Linked DNA regions of Homo sapiens: all the other regions are linked to region 1. The links come from fine-mapping of genetic effects on gene expression. A gene starts in region 1. Each other region holds a variant in brackets. All regions are shown on one strand. Distances are between the middles of the regions.

Evidence for each region. PIP is the estimated chance that this variant, and not a neighbour inherited with it, causes the effect. A credible set is the group of variants that fine-mapping cannot tell apart.
Region 2: its variant is the best candidate, but not a certain one, in a credible set for the expression of CROCC in lymphoblastoid cells (GEUVADIS, PIP 0.90).
Region 3: its variant is the best candidate, but not a certain one, in a credible set for the expression of CROCC in adrenal gland (GTEx, PIP 0.66).
Region 4: its variant is the best candidate, but not a certain one, in a credible set for the expression of CROCC in whole blood (TOPMed, PIP 0.76).
Region 5: its variant is the best candidate, but not a certain one, in a credible set for the expression of CROCC in stomach (GTEx, PIP 0.89).
Region 6: its variant is the best candidate, but not a certain one, in a credible set for the expression of CROCC in thyroid (GTEx, PIP 0.59).

Annotation. Positions count from the first base shown.
Region 1 is chr1:16,920,106-16,924,192 of GRCh38, forward strand. It overlaps CROCC (ciliary rootlet coiled-coil, rootletin), which reads left to right and starts at 1,826. Exons shown (of 37, transcript NM_014675.5): 1 at 1,826-1,973; 2 at 2,558-2,693. The coding sequence starts at 1,914. RefSeq lists enhancers at 468-1,240, 1,241-2,012, 2,013-2,784, 2,785-3,556, 3,740-4,087.
Region 2 is chr1:16,731,040-16,735,126 of GRCh38, forward strand. No RefSeq gene overlaps it. Among named protein-coding and RNA genes, the nearest start is that of TRG-CCC5-1, 5.8 kb to the left of the region's middle. The variant G/A (reference allele first, on the strand shown) is at 2,436.
Region 3 is chr1:17,014,645-17,018,731 of GRCh38, forward strand. SDHB (succinate dehydrogenase complex iron sulfur subunit B) reads right to left here. Exons shown (of 8, transcript NM_003000.3): 8 at 4,078-4,087. Among named protein-coding and RNA genes, the nearest start is that of ATP13A2, 4.8 kb to the left of the region's middle. RefSeq lists enhancers at 1,155-1,689, 1,690-2,225. The variant G/A (reference allele first, on the strand shown) is at 1,785.
Region 4 is chr1:16,973,903-16,977,989 of GRCh38, forward strand. It overlaps MFAP2 (microfibril associated protein 2), which reads right to left. Exons shown (of 9, transcript NM_002403.4): 3 at 3,207-3,296; 4 at 2,995-3,021; 5 at 2,806-2,892; 6 at 2,599-2,643; 7 at 1,741-1,828; 8 at 1,367-1,440; 9 at 600-1,121. The coding sequence ends at 1,018. It overlaps LOC105376806 (a long non-coding RNA gene), which reads left to right and starts at 1,959. Exons shown (of 2, transcript XR_947003.3): 1 at 1,959-2,660; 2 at 3,767-3,893. RefSeq lists an enhancer at 548-1,355. The variant G/A (reference allele first, on the strand shown) is at 2,438.
Region 5 is chr1:16,678,035-16,682,121 of GRCh38, forward strand. TRG-CCC4-1 (tRNA-Gly (CCC) 4-1) reads right to left here and starts at 307; the gene lies at 237-307. The variant A/T (reference allele first, on the strand shown) is at 1,917.
Region 6 is chr1:16,518,307-16,522,393 of GRCh38, forward strand. It overlaps TRN-GTT5-1 (tRNA-Asn (anticodon GTT) 5-1), which reads right to left and starts at 2,352; the gene lies at 2,279-2,352. The variant T/A (reference allele first, on the strand shown) is at 2,016.

The DNA of each region.
Region 1 (4,087 bases):
GTCTTACTGTGTCGCCAGGCTGGAGTGCAGTGGCATGATCTCGCCTCACTGCAACCTCTGCCTCCCAGGTTCAAGCGATTCTCCTGACTCAGCCTCCCAGGTAGCTGGGACTACAGGTGTGCACCACCATGCCTAGCTAATTTTTGTATTTTTAATAGAGACGGGGTTTCACCATGTAGGCCAGGATGGTCTTAATCTCTTGACCTCCTGATCCGCCTGCCTCAGCATCCCAAAGTGCTGGGATTACAGGCCAATTCTTGTATTTTTAGTAGAGATGGGGTTTCACTATGTTGGCCAGGCTGGTCTCAAACTCCTGACCTCAAGTGATCTGCCCGCCTCAGCCTCCCAAAGTGCTGGAATTAGAGGCTTGAGCCACTGCACCTGGCCTGGTTTAGTCTCCTTTTAGAGATGAGAAAACTGAGGCTCAGGGAGGTAACCTGTTCAAGGTCTTACTGTCTTGAACACCATAGTTGCAAGTGACAGAGCTGAGTCTCACATGCAACCTCAGACCTGATACTGACTCCAGAGCTGTGCGCCTAAGCACTAGAGCACATAGCCTCCTTGCCCCAGGGAAAGAACAATGGGAGGTGGTGGGTGACCTCTGGGTCTCAGGGCCCTGGGATATAGGGACTGTGCCTTTTTTTTTTTTTTTTTTGAGACAAAGTTCCACTCTTGTTGCCCAGGCTGGAGTGCAATGGCGCGATCTTGGCTCACTGCAACCTCTGCCTCCTGAGTTCAATCGATTCTCCTGCCTCAGCCTCCCAAGTAGCTGGGATTACAGGTGTGCACCACCACACCCGGCTAATTTTTGTATTTTTGGTAGAGACGGGGTTTCACCATATTGGTCAGGCTGATCTTGAACTCCTGACCTCAGGTGATCCACCCGCTTTGTCCTCCCAAAATGCCGAGATTACAGGCATGAGTGCCTGCGCCTGGCTGGGACTGTACCTTCTGGATTTTCAAATGAATGAAATGAGTATTTCTTGAGTGTTGGCCACGTGACCCCCCAGCACCATGTCATGTGCTGGGTATGCACACACGATACTGTTTCATCCCCGGACGGCTCCGAGAGATGAGTACCAATATTATCACATCTTACGTAAGAGGACACTGAGTCTCAGAGAGGCAAAGTCAGTGTCCCTGGTGCACCCAGCTAGTGGGGGCTGGGGTGGGTGTGAAGGGGCCAGAAGCTTCCCAATAAGTGCCTGAAGGGCAAGGCTAGGGCATTTGTAGTTCGAGGCTCTACCACTGTGTCTAGGTCAGACCTAGGAATGCCGCAGGTGTTGCATAAATGCTCATCAGTCCAGGCTGGACCGCTCATGCCCAACTAAGTGCCAAGCCTGGCCTGGGTGATCTCACAGCCTGCATTCTTTGCCCTACACCTGTTGTGGGAAAACATACTCCCAGCATGCTGTAAATCCTCTCATTCTTAGCTAACCATGTGACTCCCGTTCTGGGCCAGAAAGATGGTCACAAATACTTAGGACTCTGGCCTTTCCCGCCGCATGGCTACTGACCCCACCCCCTGGGCTTGGAGGGCTCTAGGACCCAGCAACCTGCGCAGGGTGAAGAGTGTGTGAGGTCCTGACCTCCAGGTGTCTCCCCTGTTTCCTCCTCCCATTCCCTCTTCTCTCTCCTCCCTCCTTTTCTCTCCCTTCTCCTCCCCTCTCTTCATCCTTCCTCTTCCTTTGGCTCCCTGCCTCTGCTTCCCTCCTCTCCTGTCCTTTCCCATCCCCTCCCTCCTCAGCCCACATCCTGCTCCTCCCACCGCGGTGGTCACATGGGGGCGCCGCCGGATTTAAGCTTAATCTGCCTGGTGCTCAGCACAGCATCCTGGCTGTGGCGCGTGCTGACTGAGCTAGTCTTGGGGTCCTGGAGAAGGGGGCTGGAGGCATGCCCACAGCCTCCCCCCCATGAGCTTGGGGCTGGCGGGGGCACAGGAGGTGGAGCTGACACTAGAGACGGTTATCCAGGTGGGTCCTGGGGGCTGTGCCCACCCTGTCTGGGGCGGGGCAGCGTGGACTTAACAGGAGTGGTGAGAGGTGTGTGCGTCTTGGGGATCAAGGGGTGGGAGAGGTGTGGTGGTGGTGGGGTATACAGGGGCCCCCCGCTTGCAGTTCCTGGCAAGATGGGGGGCAGAGGTACACACAGGGTGCACCTGCTGTGGCTCCCTCATCCCAGTGCCCTGGGTTGGGAGAAGGGGGTCTCTACTGCCAGATTTTAGGGCTTGGGGGACCTCTGGCATAGCCAGATCCTCATCCATCTAGGGTCGGAACCGGATTGGGGCCCCCAACACTGGACTGCCTCCAGTGGGGTTTGGGAGTTACCCGTAGGGTTTGGTTCTCATCTCTGGCCCTGGGCCTTCTTCCTGGGGCAGTGAGCACACAAGAGGCTCTTTGCATGGGGATTTTTTGGATTCTAACTCCCAGGCTTCACTCCATCTTGAGGGGGCTCCTGGGGACCTGTATCTTGGGCAGTAGGATTCTGTGGCTCTCCCCACGAGGCCAGGGAGCCCCGGGTCCCATGTCCCCTGAAGACCCTCTCGCTTTTCCCACAGACACTGGAGAGCAGCGTCCTGTGCCAGGAGAAAGGCTTGGGCGCGCGGGACCTGGCCCAGGACGCTCAGATCACCAGCCTGCCTGCCCTTATCAGGGAGATTGTCACCCGCAACCTCTCCCAGCCTGAGAGCCCAGGTGCCACCCCCATCCGCTCCCCTCCACAAACACCACCCACATTTTACCTCTTCTCATGTCCCTTTCCTGAGCAGTCACCATGATGATCATGACTGTAACTCACTGTGGGGCAGGCACAGCTTTATGACAGAAGAACCCATTTTACAGATGAGGAAACAGAGGCTCAGGGATGTAATTTGTCCAGACTTATTCCGCATGTGGTGCAACTAGAAGGAAGGGCCGAGCATCTCCTGCGTGCTTGCCTGTAGCCTGCTGCAGAGATGTGAACCCCAAATCCCGTATTCCCACCCGGGGAAGGTGTGAGCTGGCTGAACCCAAGATACAGGAAGAGGGCAGCTCAGCTCAGACCAGGGTTTTGCGGAAGTCTGAGTGGATGGCGCCGTCCATCCGTTTCCCACGTGGGCAGGAAGGCGGATGGTCCCTGCTCCTCTCAGTGGGTGGCGCACACGGTGTAGTTATGTGGCTTGAGGATCTGGGAAAGGCACACTCAGTTGCAGCTGGTGTGCTGGCGTGTGGCGTTTTGGTGCTCTAACCATTGTCTGTGTTCAACTCCCAAGCTACAGACGGGCCCCCTCCTTGGGAGCGCCAGGGATGTTGGCGCCCTGGAGCCCCAGACAGGGAGAGACTCAGAGGGCCCTCACCCTGACACCTGGGGTGTATGTCCAGTTCTCCCAGGGTAGAAGGGGAACCCACAGGAGGTGGACAACCCCGCTTCTCCCGCTGGCCTTTCTTTCCCTCTTCTCTCTTTCTCCTTCTCCTCACAACCTGACCTATGCTATGCTCTCCTGAGCCCTAGCCTTTAAAGTTCCATGAAGCCCTTCTCTTGAGCGAGGCTTTGATGCTTTTCTGGGAGGATCTGGTTACTACTATTCTACCTTTTTTTTTTTTTTTTTTTTTTTTGAGACAGAGTCTCGCTGTGTTGCCCAGGCTGGAGTGCAGTGGCGCAATCTCAGCTCACTGCAACCTCCACCTCCCCGGTTCAAGTGATTCTGCTGTCTCAGCCTCCCAAGTAGCTGGGACTACAGGCATACACCACCATGCCCAGCTAATTTTTGTATTTTTAGTAGAGACAGGGCTTCGCCGTGTTGGCCAGGCTAGTCTCAAACTCCTGACCTCAGGTGATCCTCCTATCTCGACTCCCAAAGTGCTGGGATTACAGGCGTGAGTCCGTGCCCGCCCCACCCATATTACAGATAAGTAAATCTGAGGCCCCGGAGAAGAAGACTAATTGGAAAAGGAGGGAGCAAGAACTCAGGGGTCTCCTGGCTCCTAGACTGAGTGTCTCTCCTGCACCTCCCAAACCTGCTGGGCCACACTTTAGCTGGAGTTGTGTTCACTTTACGTCCAGCTTTGTATCCCCTCCTTGCCTTCCTCCCTGTTCTCAGCTCTGTTTG
Region 2 (4,087 bases), 190 kb before region 1:
TCTTTGTAGATTCTGATGAAACTACAGATGAGTAGATTGCAAAAATTTTCTCCCATTCTGTAGGTTGCCTGTTCACTCTAATGACAGTTTCTTTTGCTGTGCAGAAGCCCTTAAGTTTAATTAGATCCCATTTGTCAATTTTGGCTTTTGTTGCCATTGCTTTCGGTGTTTTAGACATGAAGTACTTGCCCATGCCTATGTCCTGAATGGTATTGCCTAGGTTTTCTTCTAGGCTTTTTATGGTTTTAGGTCTGACATTTAAGTCTTTAATCCATCTTGAATTAATTTTTGTATAAGGTGTAAGGAAAGGATCCAGTTTCAGCTTTCAACATATGGCTAGCCAGTTTTCCCAGCACCATTTATTAAATAGGGAATCCTTTCCCCATTTCTTGTTTTTGTCAGGTTTGTCAAAGATCAGATAGTTGTAGATGTGTGGCATTATTTCTGAGGGCTCTGTTCTCCTCCATTGGTCTATATCTCTGTTTTGGTACCAGTACCATGCTGTTTTGGTTACTGTAGCCTTGTAGTATAGTTTGAAGTCAGGTAGCGTGATGCCTCCAGCTTTGTTCTTTTGGCTTAGGATTGACATGGCAATGCGGGCTCTTTTTTGGTTCCATATGAACTTTAAAGTAGTTTTTTCCAATTCTGTGAAGAAAGTCATTGGTAGCTTGATGGGGATGGCATGGAATCTATAAATTACCTTGGGCAGTATGACCATTTTCCCGATAGTGATTCTTCCTACCCATGAGCGTGGAATGTTCTTCCATTTGTTTGTATCCTGTTTTATTTTGTTGAGCAGTGTTTTGTAGTTCTCCTTGAAGAGGTCCTTCACATCCCTTGTAAGTTGGATTCCTAGGTATTTTATTCTCTTTGAAGCAATTGTGAATGGGAGTTCCCTCATGATTTGGCTCTCTGTTTGTCTGTTATTGGTGTATAAGAATGCTTGTGATCTTTGCACAAGAATTCTGTATGCTGAGGAGTCATTTTTAAAATAAATATATTGCAAATGACTTTTCCCAGTCAGTGAAAAGTCTGACTGAAAGCTGTCAACTGAAAAATCACACAATTTATAAATTTAGAAGGGAGATTTTATTTTTTATAAATGGTTACAGCCTGCAAGGTGGCCATTCTGACAGACAGGGAGGCATACCCTCTTGCTGCTGAAACCTGAAAAGTACGTTTCCAGGGAGGGGAGGGGGGAACAGGGATTTATGTTGATGTGGTGGGCCACATATACATATTCAACAGGGAATAGGAGGAGCTCTGAATATTCATGAAGGGATCCTGCTGCATGCATGCTGAGTAAACATGCCTGTTACATGCAACCCATGTTCATTTTGGGGTGGAGACAACATTTAAATACATTATAATTAGGCCCTATGCTTCAAAAGGGGAAGCAGGGACACAAAGGCAGTCAAGTGCACAGCCTCTGTAAACCGTCCAGAACCCGTCCACAGCCAGTGCTCTCTTATCAAGGGGAAGTTACTGAAATCAGTCTCTTGTCCAATCAAAGCTGTAGTTATGGCTTGTGTAGGGAGGGCTCAGTCAGTTTATGGTAATGGGTGAGCTGCAAGTGCTTCAGCATTGCTTATCTCAAGGCCAGTGCTTGTTTAGCTAGAGAAAAAAAGGAAGAAGAAAAAAACCTGTGGCAATTGGAACATAGTTTATTCTTTAAGTTGAGGGGCGCATGACTCCACCTTGCCTGGCGTGGCCTTAGGTCTCGTTTATCATACCATATCTTACTACTGCAAGGAGTCTGTTCTGTCAGTCTTAGGATCTCTATTTTAACAATAATGCTGGTCAGTTGTGTCTAAACCACAAAGGGAGAGAGTATAAGGAGAGGTGTCTGAGATTCCAACTACTGGGCAGGAACTCAGTAGTTAAGACTTCTCTGGGGTCTCCTTGGCCAAGAAACAGTCTGTCCAGTTGGTTGAGTGGCTTTGGATTTTAATTTTAGTTCTCAAAGCATTTAATTTGATGAAATTTTGCCATATTTTTTCTTTATTTTTAAAGCCTGTTATGTTCTATAAGAAATCTTTCTACTCAGGATAGTGAATGTATTCTCTTAATTTTATCTCTCTATGAGTTCCAGCGTTTTAGTTTTAATTTTTAAATTGATGACATCTAAAATTCTACTCCTAACCAAAACATTCCTGGGGGTGACCAAGGACAACTCCAAAAATCTTCCATAAATGGAAGTAAGACTTACTCCTTGAAGAACTTACTGGGATCTGGGCCTGCAGGGCACAGTGGCTTTAGTGCACCTCTGCTCTTACGACTATTCAGAAATTGTCTTTGTGAACCCATCAGGCTGTTTCAAAATCAGCAATTTAGGGCTTGCTTGCAACATGCAGTTATGCAGCAGCTGTTTTGTGGATCTGGTGAGTGCCTGCACGCATAGTTCCCCGGGAATTTTCTGAATTTGAATTCTCATG[G/A]TATTTCAAGTGGCTCAGTTGTCTCTTTCTTTTCTTTTCTTTTCTTTTCTTTTCTTTTTTTTTTTTTGAGTCAGAGTCTTGCTCTGTCACCCAGGCTGGAGTGCAGTGGCTGGAGTGCAGTGGCGCGATCTCAGATCACTGCAAGCTCCGCCTCCCGGGTTCACGCCATTCTCCTGCCTCTGCCTCCCCAGTAGCTGGGACTACAGGCACCCGCCACCACGCCCGGCTACTTTTTTGTATTTTTAGTAGAGACGAGGTTTTACCGTGGTCTTCATCTGACCTCGTGATCCGCCCGCCTCGGTCTCCCAAAGTGTTGGGATTACAGGCGTGAGCCACCGCGCCCGGCCAGTTGTCTCTTTCTTTTGCCTACTGCCACACACGTACCACCAAATCCTGCACTCCAAGCTGCTTCTACACCCTGGACTCCCAACCTCCAGTTAGACAATCCACATCTTCCCACACCTGCCTCAGGCTCCATCAGGCTACTGTGCCTCCTGCAGCAACCAGGCCAGGGGGAATCTGGATTCCTATTACACTTCTGAGGAAGGTGGTCAGGGAGTGTGGAGGATGTGGGTGGGAGGGGGTGAGGTTGAGGGCAGGAGTACACTGTGGTCTTCTGTCTTCTACCTCATTGGCCCAGGTGCTGCTCTCCCTCCGGTTGTCTGCTTTCAGCCCTGCCTGGGAAATCAGGCCGGCGCCCTGATCTTCCTGACTCTCATTTTGTGAGGAACCTGAACGGATGAGCCATCGCTCTTGTCCCACACGTTCTGTCCAAAAGGTGCCCTCCTCTCTGCTTGCTCGGGGGCCTGCCCTCTGAGCTCTGGCACTCAGGCTGGGATGCCGCCCAGTACAGAGGCTCTGCAGCCCTGCAGGGGTCTGACTGTTCCACACCAGCAGGATAAAGGCCACAGGGCATGCTGTGGTGGAAAAGCATTCAGAGGTGTGGGCTGAAGGCCTCTCTTTCCACAGTCCCTTTGAAGACACCATGGAAGTAGGCACCCCCTTGACAGACAAGGTGGCCCAAGGCCTGGCTTCACATGCAGGCTCTTGGGTCCCAGCGGGTCCTCTCTGTGCCTGGTATAGCCAACTGCTTCACGCATCTTACCCGGTTTCCTCTCCTCCACAACCCAAGCTCCTCCTCGACCCCCTTGCTCAGCTGTCCTCAGGACAGCAAGATCCCCAGCCCTTGGAAAAGCCCATCTCTAGTGCTTGGGGAGGGAGTTGGGTTCAGGTGGTCTAACCACAGAAGAACAGAGAACCTGAGGCAGGAGGAAATCCCTTCCCTTGCTGGGTCTCTTGGCACAGCCCATCCAGGGGTCTGGGTCAGGGTCCAGGTATACTCTACCCTCCTTGAGGACCTGGGTTTTCAGGCCCCCGAGGTTGGTCAATGTGGAGTCTTTCCCACTGTTCATCTGGGAACTGAAGGAATATCCCATGGGGCCCTCTCTTACTCATTAGAGACACCCAGAAAATACTCCATCCAGCAGAAACTGGGTGCAGTGTACCAGACCACTATAATTATAATTGCAGGATGTGGAGGTCAGATACGTTTTGTGGGTATTTTCTCTCTGTCTGTGGCTTGCTTGCCTTTTCGCTTTCTTAGTGGTATCTTTTGATGAGAAGGTGTGGCTAATGTTGATGAAGTCTCATTT
Region 3 (4,087 bases), 95 kb after region 1:
ATGTTACCCAGGCTGGTCTCGAACTCCTGTGCTTCAGAGATCCACCTTGGTCTCCCAAAGTGGGATTACAGGAGTGAGCCACTGTGCCTGGCCGAGTTTCAGCACTTTGTATGGTAGTTATCCTGGTGCCAGGAAGGGAAGGGGCCTGAAGAGAATTTGACCAATGGGAGTCCCTCCCTGACCTGAGCAGTGTGACGGGAGAGATGAGAAATAAGCAATATTAGCCTTGCACGGAAAAACCATCCTCCCAACAGGGAGGCCTCTAGCTCTGGCCAGTCATGTCAGAAACATGCCAGCTGTCAACTCAGGGTTGGGAAGGAATTACTCTTGCAGCCTCCCAGCATTCACTCGAGGGCCTTTCACATAGTAGGTACTCAAGACAAATCCGTTCACTTGAGTTTATGGAGCATTTACTCTACTGCAGGCAAGATGCTTTCACATTTACTTTTAGACTTCAACCATAATTCTGAGAGGGGAATGCTGTTAATTCCCATTTTACAGATAGGAAAATAGAGTCACAGATGTTCAACATGTCCAGAGCTAGGTAAGAAGGGATGGCTGGCTTCAGTCCTACGAAATTCTATTTTTATTTTTAATTTCTTTAGAGACAGGTTCTGGCTCTGTGATCCAGGCTGGAGTGCAGAGGCACGATCCTAGTTCACGGCAGCCTCTAACTCCTGGGCTCAAGCAATCCTCCCACCTCCCAAAGCGCTAGGATTATAGGCGTGAGCCACAGGGCCAGGCTGGAAGTATTATCTTGTAAATGAAGGCACACTGGGCACAGAAGTAGCATACAGGACAAAATACTGTTCCCCACACAGGTCTGCAGTTTTACTGGAAAAGCCTTTGTGACTGTTGCAATAGAACATTTGTCTCCAATTCAATGAAAGATTAAGCAGTAAATTAAACTATCAGTTGATAACATATACCAATTTAACTTGGAGTTCAACTGCGGAGAGTGACCATCAGAGTCAACCCAGCCTCTGATGACGCTGATCTGAAGTGGCGACTCCTAAGCTACACCCTGCCTCTTATCAGTTGTTGCGGACCCATCTTTACAAAGCATTAAGTTGTTCATGAGAAGCAGGGTGTGCTTGCCCACACCTGTAATCCCAGCACTTTGGGAGGTCGAGGCAGGTGGATCGCTTGAGTTAGAGATCAGTATGCTCAACAAACATGGTGAAACCCTGTCTCTACTAAAAATACAAAAATTAGCTGCGTAACGCCTGTAACCCCAGCTAGTTGGGAGGCTGAGGCAGGAGAATCGCTTGAACTTGGGAGGCGGAAGTTGCAGTGAGCCAAGATTGCACCACTGCACTCCAGCCTGGTGACAGAGCGAGACTCCAAAAAAAAAAAAAAAAAAAAAAAGTCATTCATGAGAAAAACCCATCTTTCCCTACAGATCTGGAGATTAGAAGCCAAGTCAAATTATCCATGAATCCAAGGAATGTGACCTTTCCCCAGGCTGATAGAAAGCCATTAGGTCTGAGCTGGGGAACAGAAGCTATCCACAGACATGGCCCGCAGTTCAAGTTCCACTGTCTTTCAAGAAGCCAGTGCACTCCACAATCTTAGGCTTCAGCGCCGCAGGGCCATGTACTGTGTGTCTCACTGAGATAGTCAAGAATTCCAAGATGCTGTAGGGAGGGGCACACGGCCCTGTTCTTGAAATTTCTGATGTTTGTTCCTTTTTCCTTTGTGACCTTGGCTCCTAGGTGGCAGGCAGGCAACAAATCTTGTTCATCCTTGTCCCCAGCACCTCACCTTCCATAATGCCTGAGACA[G/A]ATGCTTGTTGAATCAGCCCTTTAAGCCAGAAAATGCTCATTAAGGCTCATTCTCGGTGAGTCACACGTTTTCTCAGCTGCTTGCCTCAGGATGCATGAAACCTTTGTTTTCCGGATGATCCAGAGGTTTCCAGCTACGACTTAAAAAAGCAGCCTTGGATGAAAAGGTGAATAGGGACCACCCGAATGTGCCTTAGTAGGGGAATGGTTAAATAAGGGTACACCCATGCCACAGTGCTCTTAAGCAGGAGTTCCAAAAATTTTTACATACACACACACACAGATAAGGGAGGTCTTGGCTGGGCACGGTGGCTCATGCCTGTAATCCCAGCACTTTGGGAGGCCGAGGCGGGCGGATCACGAGGTCAGGAGATCGAGACCATCCTGGCTAACACGGTGAAACCCTATCTCTACTAAAAATACAAAAAATTAGCCGGGCGTGGTGGCGGGCCCCTGTAGTCCCAGCTGCTCTGGAGGCTGAGGCAGGAGAATGACGTGAACCCAGGAGGCGGAGCCTGCAGTGAGCCGAGATCGCGCCACCACACTCCAGCCTGGACGACAGAGCGAGACTCTGTCTCAAAAAAAAAAAAAAAAAAAAAACACACAACAAAACAACAACAACAAAAAGGTAGGTCTTTATTAGCACTGAAATCCCTTCTACATTGTGAGGTAAAAATAGAGGCCGGGCGCAGTGGCTCACACCTGTAATCCCAGCACTTTGGGAGGCTGAGACGGGCGGATGACGAGTTCAGGAGATCAAGACCATCCTGGCTAACACGGTGAAACCCCGTCTCTACTAAAAATACAAAAAAATTAGCCAGGCATAGTGGCGGGCGCCTGTAGGCCCAGCTACTTGGGAGGCTGAGGCAGGAGAATGGCGTGAACCCGGGAGGCGGAGTGCAGTTTTTTTTTTGGGACTCCGTCTCAAAAAAAAAAAAAAAATAGCTGCTGGCAGACTATAGGATACCCCTTTATTTTTAAAATCTTTTTTGGTATGTTAAGAAAAAAAAGAGACAGGGTCTCACTATGTTGGCCAGGTTGATCTTGAAGTCCTGGCCTCAAGCAATCCTCCCACCTTGGCTTCCCAAAAGTGCTAGAAGCCACTGTTCCAGGCTTTTTTTTTTTTTTTTTTTAAAGGAATGGGGTCTCACTATGTTGCCCAGGCTGGAGCGCAGTAACTATTCACAGGCGCAATCATGGCAAACCATAGCCCCGACCTCTTGGGCTCACGTGATGCTCCCACCCCAGCCTCCTGAGTAGCTGGATTAGGGGCACACGCCACAGCTCCTGGCTCTATGGTACCTTACTTTTGAAGGGAGAAAGTTTTATATATGCTGCATAACTGTAATAACGTAGAGTGTGGAAGGAAATGTCTAAGCTATCAACGGGATGAGTTTGGAGGAGCTTCCACTTTTACTTTCCCCCTTTCTCCTTTTTTGCATTGCTTTTTTGTTTTGTGGAGACAGGGTCTCACTCTGTTGCTCACACTGGAGTGCAGCGGTGTGATCTCGGTCACCGCAACCTCCACCTCCCAGGCTCAAGTGATTCTCCTGCCTCAGCCTCCCAAGTAGCTGGGATTACAGGCACGCACACCCACTGCCCAGCTAATTTTTGTATTTTTAGTAGAGACGGGGTTTCACCACGTTGGCCAGGCTGGTCTTGAACTCCTCACCTCAAATGATCCTCCCGCCTCAGCCTCCCAAAGTGCTGGGATTACAGGCGTGAGCCACCACGCCCGGCTGTGCAGTGAGCATGCCAGCCAAGGCAGCAGTGCTGTGGAGTTGATGTTTGCAGTGAGAGGCCCCACGAGGTCATTTGTGGAACTAACTGGATTCACAACTGACCAGGGTCATTGCTCTGTGCTGGAGGAATCTCAAACCTGGCCTCACCGACGTATCCAAAGACTTACCAAGATTTGGTTTTCAGTAATTCTGGTACTGAAAACTATAGAAACTGGGAAGATACAGAACACTAACACTAACTGAGTGTTCAGAATAAGTGCCAGGCATTCTCATACCAGATGAATGAAGTAGGCACAATTATGGATCCCATCTTACAGATGGGCGAATGGAGCAGCAAAGAGGTGAAGGAACTTGTCCAAGGTTGTCTAGCTGGTGAGTGGCAAAGCTGGGAACAAGCTGCAGGCCCTGCTGATGTCAGTTCCACGGCTCATCACCTCCTTCCAGCTAGGGTACCCCCACCCCCGCTCAGCTCTGAAGCCCTGTCCATCTCTCCAAGGACAAGGACTCCTGGCACCTTCACATTCCCCTGCGGCAAGTAAAGGAACAGGTTCTTTTTTTTTT
Region 4 (4,087 bases), 54 kb after region 1:
CTGGAATTACAGGCACACGCCACCACGCCTGGCTAATTTTTTTTTGTATTTTTACTAGAGACGGGATTTCGCCATGGCCAGGCTGGTCTCGAACTCCTGGCCTCAAGTGATCCGCCCGCCTCAGCCTCCCTAAGTGCTGGAATTATAGGTGTGAGTCCCTGTGCCCCGCTTTTTTTGCCCTCTTAATGGCACCCATCTCCCCAACTTCCCAAACAAAGGCCTTGGATGTCAGTCCGCCTGCCTTGACCCTGTGCCCCCCCCACCCCATGGGCGGCCTCCCATTTTTGCTGTGTTCCTCTGGTGATGGGAACTCAATGTGCTCACCAAGCAGCCCCGGTCATCAGAAAGCTGTGTCCCTGAAGCCTTCCATCTCCCGTGCAATTCCCACAACACGCATGCGCGCGTACACTGTCATGACGCAGCGTTCTGGGCAGGGCAGAGCTGGAGCCGGCGGGTAAGGCGGTGGGGCTGGGACTGCGGAAGCACAGGGCACCTGAGCAGATCGTTCACTCCAAGGGGTCAGGAGCCTCTCAGGACAGTCCGCGTTGGGGGCACTTGGCTGGCCCCTCTGTGCTCTCCACCGAAAAAGTGACTTGATCTTTTGTAAAAACTTGTTTTTAATTTTGTATAAAATAAAGGTGGTCCATGCCCACGGGGGCTGTAGGAAATCCAAGCAGACCAGCTGGGGTGGGGGGATGTAGCCTACCTCGGGGGACTGTCTGTCCTCAAAACGGGCTGAGAAGGCCCGTCAGGGGCCCAGGTCCCACAGAGAGGCCTGGGATACTCCCCCAACCCGAGGGGCAGACTGGGCAGTGGGGAGCCCCCATTGTGCCCCAGAGGTGGCCACAGGCTGAAGGAGGGGCCTGAGGCACCGCAGCCTGCAACCCCCAGGGCTGCAGTCCACTAACTTTTTACAGAATAAAAGGAACATGGGGATGGGGAAAAAAGCACCAGGTCAGGCAGGGCCCGAGGGCCCCAGATCCCAGGAGGGCCAGGACTCAGGATGCCAGCACCACCCTAGCAGCTCCCACAGCTCCTGGCACAGGAGGCCGCCACGGATTGGCACAGGCCGCTGCTGGCCATCACGCCACATTTGGAGAACTTGTCCCGACAGAGGTCAGCTATTGGGGGCAGGAAGGAGGCAGGGTCAGGGTGGAGCTGGGTGATGGGAACCGCTGCCCCTCCCCCAACTCTGGTGATGGGAGTGTTTTGAGGATGAAAAGTAGCAAGGAGGGGAGCTCAGGGTGTCCTGGAAGTGGGCCTGGTGGATAATATGTGTTGAATAAACATCAGGTGGGTGGCTAGGTGGCCAGATAATGATGCGGGTGTGGGGACAGGGGAGGTCTTGGGGAGGTGGCCTTCCTACCTCGGAGGAGCTCCTCATGGGCACACACTGTACGAACACAGATCTCCTTGTTAATGACGTACACACGGCGGAGGCTGCGGGGACAGGGCACGGGAGGTCTCAGCCCCACTTCCACCCAATCCCACTGGGATAGCCCAGACAGAACCTGGCACGGGAGCCCGGACAGAACCTGGCACGGGAGCCCGGACAGAACCTGGCACTGGAGCCCAGGAGTGGAGGAGGTCCCTGGCCCAGGCTCAACCACAGAACTGAGCTCAACTTAAGGACTCACTATCTTTCCTCCAACTCCCACCTTGGCGGGCCAGAGCTGTCCCCTGTGCCCTCTAGCCCCCCATGCTCCGGAATCCTCCCGACAGCTGCCCATCTGTGCTCACCTGTAGAAGCAGACCTCGTTGAGACACTGTTTGCAAGGCCTGTGTATGGAGTAGAGGCGGGTGCACGGGTACTGTTCCTCACGGCAGTCTGGTGACAGGTGGGGTCAGACTAGGAGCCCAGAGTGGGGGGCGGCCCCCAGCCTCACCCACCTGAGGCTGGCTCACAGGGCCTAGTCCCCCCTGTACCTTCAGGCCCCGTGCAGACACCCATACCTACACATGCCCACATAGACCCACGCAGCATTGTCAGACTTCCCAGGGCTGTAATATTCACGTATCAATTCACAACCGCACTTACTATAGAAGCCTAAGTTCAAACAGAAATTTGCACCCACCCATGCATCGCCACAAAAGCCCATACCAACTCCCGAGCAGACGTGCCCACGCTCACAGAAGCCCACATAGGAGCGCTCACACCAACCCACACGAGAGTGAGCACACGGATTCTCCTGCACACACACACCTTGTTCTTTCAAGCTCTCAGCTAGGGCAGCCGGAGGGCACCGCTCAGCCAGCCTGCACTCCCTGGCCCTTCCTCGCCTCCACATGTGCACCACTCAGTCTCTCTGGCTGGCAGGAAGCCCCCAGCACACTCCCTGCCCCTCCCAGTATCTGTGAGGTCAGGGGCCTTCCTAGGCTGCCAATTTAGCCTCCAGCCAGGCACACTGGGGACAGGTGGGACCTCCTGGAGCTGCCT[G/A]GGGGGCCTGGTGATGCCAGCCTACGGCAGTCATACTGCCCACACTGCCAAGAGCCCACATGGGCAAGGGCCAAAGACCTCCAGCCCACCAGCACCACCCCCTACTCCACCCCAACTTCAGGGCGTGCCTCCATTTTTCCAGCTGTCAAGAAAGCCCTTACCAAGAGGCCCAGGCTCTGTGGGCTCCAGCTCTGCATTTCCTGGTTCTGGTGTGGAGACAGAGGTAGGCAGACATCACTGGGAGGGGTCTCCTCAGGGCAAGGGGAGTCACCTCTCCCAGCCCTGGCAGACCCCCACTCCCAGGGTTGACAGGGTGGGGAGGGGTGAGGCAGGAGCTGAGACGGGTGGGAGCAGGGTCTGGGGCCTACCTGGGGTTGGGGCTGGGATGACTTCCTGTTGGACTTGCTGCTGGGACTGGAACTGGAACTGTTCCTCGGAGGGCCGAGGAGTCACCTCTGCAGCCAGGGGAGGATAAGGGGGTCTGCTCCCTCTACCCCTCCCAGGGGGTCTCCCCACCCCAGCTGCCGGCCCGTCCTATCCTACCCCTAGCCCGTTACCTTGATAATCATAGTAGTCTGGGTTGTCTGCAAACAAAGATGAAAGTGGAATTGGTGGGAGTAAGGCTAATCCCCCAGCCCCTGGGGCAAACAAGTTCCCTCCTGAGCCAGGGACCAACCCCCAGAGTTCCCATCAGCGTGTCCAGTGCGGTCCCTGGCTGAGCCAGGCACATCTGAGCAGCCAGGCCTCGGTGACCCGGCAAGGCCCTTACCGATCTGGTCGCTATAGTGGGTGTACTGGACGTGGTCAGGGAACGGCGGCAGCGGGTCCAGGTCATACTGGCCCTGAGCCAGCAAGCCTGCTGTGGGGAGGCAAAGCATGTAGGGTACCCCATCGGGAGGGGCAACGGGGGCCCGAGGCGCTTCTGGAGAGTGGAGGCGGGGGTCACAAGGTCAGGCCCATAAGAGCCTAGGACCCCACAAGCAGATTCCTAGAGGATCCAGACTCTTCTTCGATGGTAAAGACCCTTCCCCACCCTGGTCATGGGTCACCTCCCTGACCTTACCCTGCCCCTTCCTGTTGCTGGCCTCCTGGCTGCTCCTAGGACTCCACATGCTCCTGCCTCCCTCAGAGCCTTTGCACCTGACACTCCCTGGGCCTGTGAGGCCTGCTCAGCTCCTTCAGGTCTTCCCTGGAATTTCAGCTGTGCCAAGATGCCGCCCCACCTCCAGCCCACCAGCCCTCCTGCTGATTTCTGTCCAGCACTCAGCACATGCTGGAGTTTCTCATGTCTGCTTGTTTCCTATTTGTCTCCCTTCCCTGGACTGGCAGCATGATGAGGAGCAACGATGTGTCTGCCTGGTTCATCGCTGAATCCCCAGGGCCTAGCCCAGCACTTGGCACGTGGTAGGGACTCAACACATCGCTGCTGAATGAATGAATGTTGGCCCTGCTAGGACTTTTGTGGTCCTCATTGATTCTCTTCATTTGGCCAGTAGGGACCCCCACAAGGTCAGGACTGTATAGAGCAGAAGGGCCCTGAATGGATCTAGAACTCAAGCATCCGGACTCCCTGCCTTGGGTGCCCCTGCACCTGCACATCGGCTCCCAGAGAGGCCTTGTGCCTTGTGCCCACGGAGTCCTTGTGCCTGG
Region 5 (4,087 bases), 240 kb before region 1:
CAGTATCAAAACTGCAGTGACTCACCAGAGACACTTCATGCTTGCCAGCTTGCTAAGCTGTTTGAGTCCAACAACTGCATGGGGTCCTGGGTTAGTCTCCTGCCGCTACTTTGGTGAGTGTTGTTGTCACTTTACCTTGTGGTGGCCAAGCCCCTAAATGCACTCTTGGGTTATGCAGTATAATTTTCAGCGTAAAAGACAAGTAAAGAGCCATAGCGAAGTGAAAAACAACCACGTGCAGTGGCCGGGAATTGAACCCGGGTCTCCCGCATGGGAGGCGAGAATTCTACCACTAAACCACCAACGCCTCTCTGGAACTACCCCCTGGAGGATAACAGAAAAGAGTAACCACAAAGATTTAGAAACTGTTCTAAGCGGTTTTTTCAAGTGTCGACTAAAAGCTAACAAAGACATCCAAACCAAATGTGTTTTTATAGGAAACTTTTATTAGACAACGTTATAAATATCAAAATAGCTCATTTGTCGGATCAAACTCTTAACTCTGAAAAAGGTCTTTCTACCTGCATTACAAACCCCTATAATAAAACATCAGAAATTCATTCATGTTTCTTTTTTCTAATCCTAAATCTTCCATCATCAACCTCAAACTGCTGCCTTAGAGGTTCTGAGAAGGTAACCTAACTGGTAGTTTAGGTAAGTAAAGTTCAAATCCAGGGAGGAAATAAGAAGCAGAAGCAGAATTAGAAGAAAGACGAAATAAAAGGACAGAACCACGGTAGAGATAATGAAGAAACAAAGGTTGGTCCACTAAGTTAGTCTTTTGTCGTTGGTTTTTTTTGGCAAAAGAGTAATGATCGGTCTCGTAATCATTATAATACTATTATTTGTCTGCTTGAAGATGTATAAAGCATTTGAAGGAAATGTGATGTGAAAAGATGAAGAACGCTTGCCGTCAATGTTTCATTGTTTGGGAGAATCCCATTTCCTAAGTTAATATGCTTTGATGTGTTAGCTATGTAAGCAGTAGACTAGTTTAAGGAAATATTGACGGTCAAATATTAACATATTAGTCTTTTGATGAAGTTCAAATATTAGAGAGATTTCTTTCCTCAATTTTCAATGGAGACATTCAACTGAAGAGACAAATCCAGAGTTTTCTCCACATGTTGGGTCTGGGAGTCATTATGACTTTTTCAAAGACAGGAGCTGTGACATGGAATCATGCTTCTTCTCAAGCTGAGAAGCCAAGCTAGGTCCAGGCTGAGTCATAAACTTGAGCCCACCAAGGAAATCATCCTTCACATTGACCTCGCAGAGCTTTGGCTGTTCTCTGTTCTTTGCCCAACACCCAAGACACACACCAGCTCTGGCCAACAAACCTTAACATATGATCTATATCAACCAAAGCTACATTTATTCCCAAATCTCCTTCTAAAATACAAACCTGTACTTTCTACTCTCAACTTCTAAATCTACCAAGGCCTCATATGCATCTGAGTCACAGATGCTAAAACTTAACCGGTTTTCTGAGGATTATTTGAGGAAGGGGTATGCATGCAAATGTATATACATAATTCATGTGATTTAGGAATATGGACTCTATGACTTCCAGATGCAGATTTAGAACCTTTTTAAAAAATATTTTGTTTTTGTTGTCTTGCAAATCAGCCAGATCTGCAACTTACCAGAGTAAAGCCAAACCAAGCGGGACCCTTAGGAAATGCGCTAAGATGTCATCCACTTTCAGTGTCAGCCTGTGAAAATTCAGGCGACAGAAGAGAATAAAGAGAATCTTAAGGAATTTCTGGAACCAAAGCTAATATTAAGCAGGCCTCTTGCTGGCAGACCAGTGGAAATTGTACCTGGTCAACAATCTGTCTAGATTGAGGAGGTCTAAAATGTAGCCACAGGTTCAAATACTTTTCTGTTTGTTTCCCAACCTCGATTAAACTCAC[A/T]AAATTTAGGGACCAAAAAAACAAACAAACAAACAAAAAAAAAAACAAACCACGACGTTCCCACCCAGTCTCGAATCAGGGACTTTTCTCGTGTGAGGCGAACATGATAACCACTACACCACAGAAACTGCATATGCACCAAAAAAGGCAAAATATCATCATGAAAATCTTAGATCAGCCATTTCTATTATCGTTTCCAAAGTAAGAAATTCAACTGCATTTCGAAATTCGACTGAAAAAAGCCCAATAAGCACCAGCCATCAAGAAGACTATGGCTCCCAATAGGCCCAGGCTTAGCGTTCCGCGCCCACCCCCAACACGAAAACCATGGGGACCCACACCCGGGCTTCGGGGACACATACCCGGGCTTCGGGCTCCCGCATCCTCCCCTGGGTATGCAGTTCCAGAACTAAGCGCCGTGTGCGGGATCCTCCCGGCTGACACTCTTCGGCTCCCAGAAGCTGCAGGAGCCGGCGGGCTTTGAGCCTCCGAGCCCTGGGCGCCCCGTGCCTCTCAGGAGGGTGGACGCCGCCCTTCCAGGGATGCGGACCCCGCCTCGGGGCCTTTTCCCCGGCGCCGGCCGTCGGGGCTCTTGGCTCTTCTCGTCCTCCCAGGAACCGTAGAACCCTCCTTGCCCTCCCTCCCGTAGGCCGAGGGGCGTGAGCTGCGCCTGTTTCCTCACGGACCCTTTGGCCTCAGCGCCTCGATGTCTTGCAATTCTTAGCTCACGGCTCTTCCTCCTATAACAAGGCCCTTCCATGTCATGTCCCCTACTCCCTCTTAGCACCAGAGAGATGTCTCCCCTGCCCCACAGGTCACATTCCATGAGTGGTGAAGTTTCTAGAGTTGTAACCATGGCATCTCCAGCCCTGTGTGTTCCTCTCCATGCTCCCCATTGAGCAGTCTTGATCCTATATTAGCCCCAGGAAATGAAATAGAAACAGGACCCTACGTTAAAAAGTTGCAGTGGAGATGTGGTGGCCACCAGGGGCTGGAACTGTGGGGTGACTGAGAGTATCCAAAGCCCTGTGGCCAACTTACTGGTGCTGAGTGTGCTGGTGAGCCTCTCTGTCAGCTGGCTTCCCCGGGCCAGTTGCTCCCGGAAGCTCTGTCCCAGGTAGTAGTCAATGTCATTGCTCCTTAGGAGATCCTCAAAAGATTTTACTGTATCTTTTGCATGCTGGGTGAGAAGATAACAAACACCTCTCCCTTCTCGTATTTTTTGCCGTAGGTAAGACAGTTCCCGGGCCTGATCCTGAATCAGGGAATCATATTTCCTAATGCAGGACAGAAGAGGAAAGGGTGGATGATAAGTTATGGGGGCTTCTGTAGAGATTTCTATGAGAACATCTCTAAGGAACTCCCCCAAACTGAATTCTGGCACATAAGCCATAGGAGGCATTTAACAGCAAATTCTACCCTGATAAAGTATCGCACTAAAAATTTTAGTATGGGCCGGGCGTGGTGGCTCATGCCTGTAATCCCAGCACTTTGGGAGGCTGAGGCAGGCAGATCATAGGTCAAGAGTTCGTGACAAGCCTGGCCAATATGGTGAAACCCCTCCTCTACTAAAAACACACACAAAAATTAGCTGGGCATGGTGGCACATGCCTGTAATCCCAGCTACTTGGGAGGCTGAGGGAGGAGAATTGCTTGAACCTGGGAGGTAGAGGTTGCAGTGAGCCGAGATGGCACCACTGCACTCCAGCCTGGGTGACAGAGTGAGACTCTGTATCAAAACAAAACAAAACAAAAATTTACCATGCCACTGTTCTTCAACTGTTATATATATGTTAATTATATGTCCCTAGATAAATTTTTTGGGAGCTGGGCCTCCAGCTGGGATACTCTCTGGAGGAGACTCTTCAGGTCCTTTTTGGCCTGAAGTCCTGGAGAGTAGAAAGCCCCAGTGCCATCAGACAGCCACAACTCATCCTCATCAGTGACACTATGAGGTGAAGACCCCTCCAGGGTGTCAGGAGCTCTCAGCTTCCAGGGTCTTTCCAGACTAGATGAATAATCACTTGTAACCAAGAGGGACTGGACCCGGTTCTTGAGGTTTTGAATGACCTTGTTGGCATTCTGCAGCTGGGCCTTCAGATCTTTGATGTCCTTTCATAGGACCCAGATGTTTTCTGACTTTCCATATACCCAGAACTCTTCCTGCCTCC
Region 6 (4,087 bases), 400 kb before region 1:
ACCAACTGAATGGACTCCCTCTTGGCTGACAGGACCACAGAGAAACTTCGAAAGCAGTTTCTGGATGTGGCAGGCTAGGAGGTTGGACATGCCACCTCAAAACCCTCCCCTCACTAACTGCCATTATGATGCAGGAGAACAGCAGAGGGAATTGGAAGTTGGATAAAAGGCAGAGTGAGTGAAAGCAGAGAAAGAAGCAAGGTGATGGGGTGGGAGAGCAAGAAGCAAGATATAAGGCAGAAGTTGAGCAGCCAAAACAAAAAGTAAGATTTAAAAAAGCAAGCAAGGCTGGGCACGGTGGCTCATGCCTGTAATCCCAGCACTTTGGGAGGCCAAGGCAGGCAGATCACCTGAGGTCAGGAGTTTGAGACCAGCCTGGCCAACATGGCGAAACCCCATCTCTACTAAAAATACAAAAAATTAGCTGGGCGTGGTGGTGCACTCCTGTACTCCCAGCTACTTGGGAGGCTGAGACAGGAGCATCGCTTGAACCCGGGAGGCAGAGGTTGCAGTGAGCCGAGATTGCACCACTACACTCCAGACTGTGCAACAGAGCGAGACTCTGTCTCAAAAAAAAAAAAAAAAAAGAAAAGCAAGCCAGGACCCCATGGCCGGTGAGATCCAAACCAGTAAAGGGGCAGCTCCTCAGAGATAGGCATGTGCATTAGAGAAAAAAAGTATCCTTAACATGACTCCATATGATAATCAGCTCATTAAAACTCATGCATATGGACTGCACATCATGCATGTACTTAAAATTATGGGATGGAGGCAATGTGCAAGCACACAAGGGCCAAAGTAACTAAGCAACCCACCTATCAATCAAAAGGCAAACACTGGCTAACGATTAGGCATCCTTGGGAAGAGAAGAGAAAGAAACACACATAAAAAGACCCAACGTACACCAAACTAATACTGATCTCACATCCCAGAGATCAGCCCACTCTCCCCACTCTGAGACTGTTACTGTGCTTAATAAATTTTGCTTTGCTTTGCTGCTTTGTGTGTGTCATGTACAGTTCTTTGTTTGGGACACCAAGAGCCTGGAAATGCACGGCACCATCTGGCAAGAATTAGGATTTTTTTTCCTAAGGGTTAACAATCCAAGCCTTTGGAGAGACTTGCTTCACTGCTGTTATCAACCAACAGCCTGATGCTTTCCCTCCCTTTTGTGGTTTTGACAAAACAAGCAAGCAGCATTCCCTCCTGATAAGAGACCACCGACCTAGGAATCATTCTGGCCAGACTACAGAGGATGTACAGTGAGGGTTTTCATGTCCATTGCCTCAGATTTTGACGTCAGAGGGCCACAAACTCCACTCTCAGATGATTGCTAACGCCACCATTTTATGAACATGAGCCCCATGGAGAGGCACGCAGCTCAACTGCACATCTGCACATTTTTCCTCTTATAAACATTCATATTGGAATATTATTTGGTACTGCTCCCGTGAAAGATACATTTGCAGAATGGACTCAGATTAGAAGCATTATACAAGCACTATAATGTAGCAATGGCACATCCAGCTCTCTACACTATAGAAATGTCTGCAGGGTAAACATTTCCACAATGACCAAAGATATCTGTACAGGACTGGTGACTGCAGCATTCTTTGTAATCCTAAAACTATGAAACTAAAGTCATCTCAAAAACATTTTGTTTTTTTGAGATGGAGTCTCGCTCTGATACCCAGGCAGTGCAGCGGTGTGATCTCAGCTCACTGCAGCCTCCACCTCCCAAGTTCAAACGATTTTCCTGCCTCAGCCTCCCGAGTAGCTGGGATTACAGGTGCATGCCACCATACCTGGCTAACAAAAACATTTTGAAAAGGGTTAAATAAATCATGCATAAACTGAGGAAAAATACTATTTTCAAAAATGATGGAGAGAATCACTTTCATGATGAATGATTCCACTGGTCACATTATTGATAGAGCAATCAGGAAACCCAGGCACATCCTGGAGGTAATACTGGACTCCTATTACTAAAATATGAAAAAATGGAGACACGTAAA[T/A]ACTCGTTTAAGCGTATAACGGACTGAATTAGAATTTTATCACATCAGAAGTGGGTTCCTAGGTCTCTGTTTCAGGATTCCTTAGTGACACAGGTGTAAACCCGGCATTTCAGGAGATAGCCGGCTAAGAATCTGGTCGGGGAGGTGGGCGGCCCTTGACATGGATCTGTCATAAATTAGTGGCTTGAGACTTTGGGAAGATAAAATCTTCCCCATTTATCTAGTGATTGACATTGCGTGAATGCTTCAAAAGTTCCAATAAGCGTCCCTGGGTGGGCTCGAACCACCAACCTTTCAGTTAACAGCCGAACGCGCTAACCGATTGCGCCACAGAGACAAGCGCTTCCAACTCTACTGGGCATCTAGGAAGGGCGCACTCACTGAACTTCCTCCGTTCCGTCTATTCTCAGGGCCCACCGGGCAGGACCACTGAGCAAGGCCTTGGAAAACCAGAGAGATTAGAGCGGTGAGTCGCGCCGGTCACGTTGGACGCCTGCGTGTTAGGAGATTCTGGAGCCAGAAGAACAGCAGAATTGCCTTCGCCCGCCCTGCCCCTCGCCTGCTGCAGAAGCTTCCAGAAACTCCCTGGTGGGCGACCCAGCCCGAGCTGCCTGGGGCCCCAAGGGAAGCTGAACGCCCTGTGGGCTCCTGGGATGGTTCTTCCCGTTCTTTGCGCCGCCTTCACCCATTGAAGGAGCCTGTGCCCACCCTGCCCAGTCGCTTTCCGGGCCGCTGAGGAGCTTCCGCTGCCATCTTCGGATCCTGTGTTCCGCACGGGGGCTCCACCAGGGCAGGGATGGTGGTGAGGGTCGCTCGTGGGTCCCCTCGCGGGGAGCAGGGTCTGGTACTCACCAGGGCGCACGACTAGGACTTGTGGAATGAATTCATCGTCGCCTTTAGCTTTTAGTCCTTTGAAGAGCCCTGAGAGTGGAAATCAAGAGATTTTTTCCACGGGGAAGTTCTTTTTACAAAGCGTTGATTTCTCGGCACCCGGCAGGGAGGGCAACTGGCAGGGTCTCTGGCGCACCTTCTGCGCGGTGGAGCCACGGGGGCTCAGCTGGGCGGTGGTGCGGCCGTGGGGTGGTAGGTCAAGAGCTGGGAAAGGAAAAAGCAAAAGCTGGGAAAGAAGCCGGGGAGCGGTGGACCAGACATCCAGACCTCCTGAAAGGCTCATGAAGGGGCACAGGCAGGATCTTCTGGAAGTGAGAATTGTTTTGTTTGTTTGTTTGTTTATTGTAGTAGAATGGGGAAATGGAGAGAGAACCTGAAAGAGCCCCAAACTCGAGGACCTATTGCTCCCCAAGAATAACATCTTCCAGAAGAACTAGACAGAAAACTAGGCGTCTGGGAACTCTGAAATCCTTGGAGGAGTAGCATCATCATGACCCTCTGTGTTCCTTTTGGCAAAGGACTTGCTCCCATTGTTTGCTTGTTCAATTGTCTGTCCGTTAAATAAATAAAACCCTTTTCCTATATCTTTAAAATTACGTTGGTTTTATCATTTTATGATTACAAGTAATGCTGCAGTCATCATTCTTGTACACTCTCATTGGCCACTGGTGTATTTCTATAGGGTGGAGGCCTGGAGAGTAGTTGTTCCAGCATAGTGTTTACATAGCTTTTATTTCATTCCGTTTTCTTTCCTTTGTTGCTTTATTAGCTATAACCGTTTTCTTATTTCAGAGGCTGCTTTAGGGTTTCCGGAATACATCTTTAATTTATCATAGTCTGCTTTCTAGTGTCATTATGCCTCCCTTTCTGGCCTTTATCCTAGTGTTATGTATCTTTACTTTATGCACTATAACCTTTGTGATTCATTATTATTACTTTTATTTGTTACGTCAAATATTTTTTGAAAGATTTAAATTATAAGAAAACGTGTAGTACATGCTTTCTAAATGCCATTTCCAATATTCGTTTCTTTGTGTAGGACCACATTTTTATCTGGTATCCTTTTGCTTCTGCCTGGAGGACGCAAGATTTCTTGTAGCGTGGGTTGGTGAATTCTTTTAGCTTCCGTATGTTTTTCAATGTTCTTATTTCACTCACAGTTTTGAAATTTTATTTTTGCA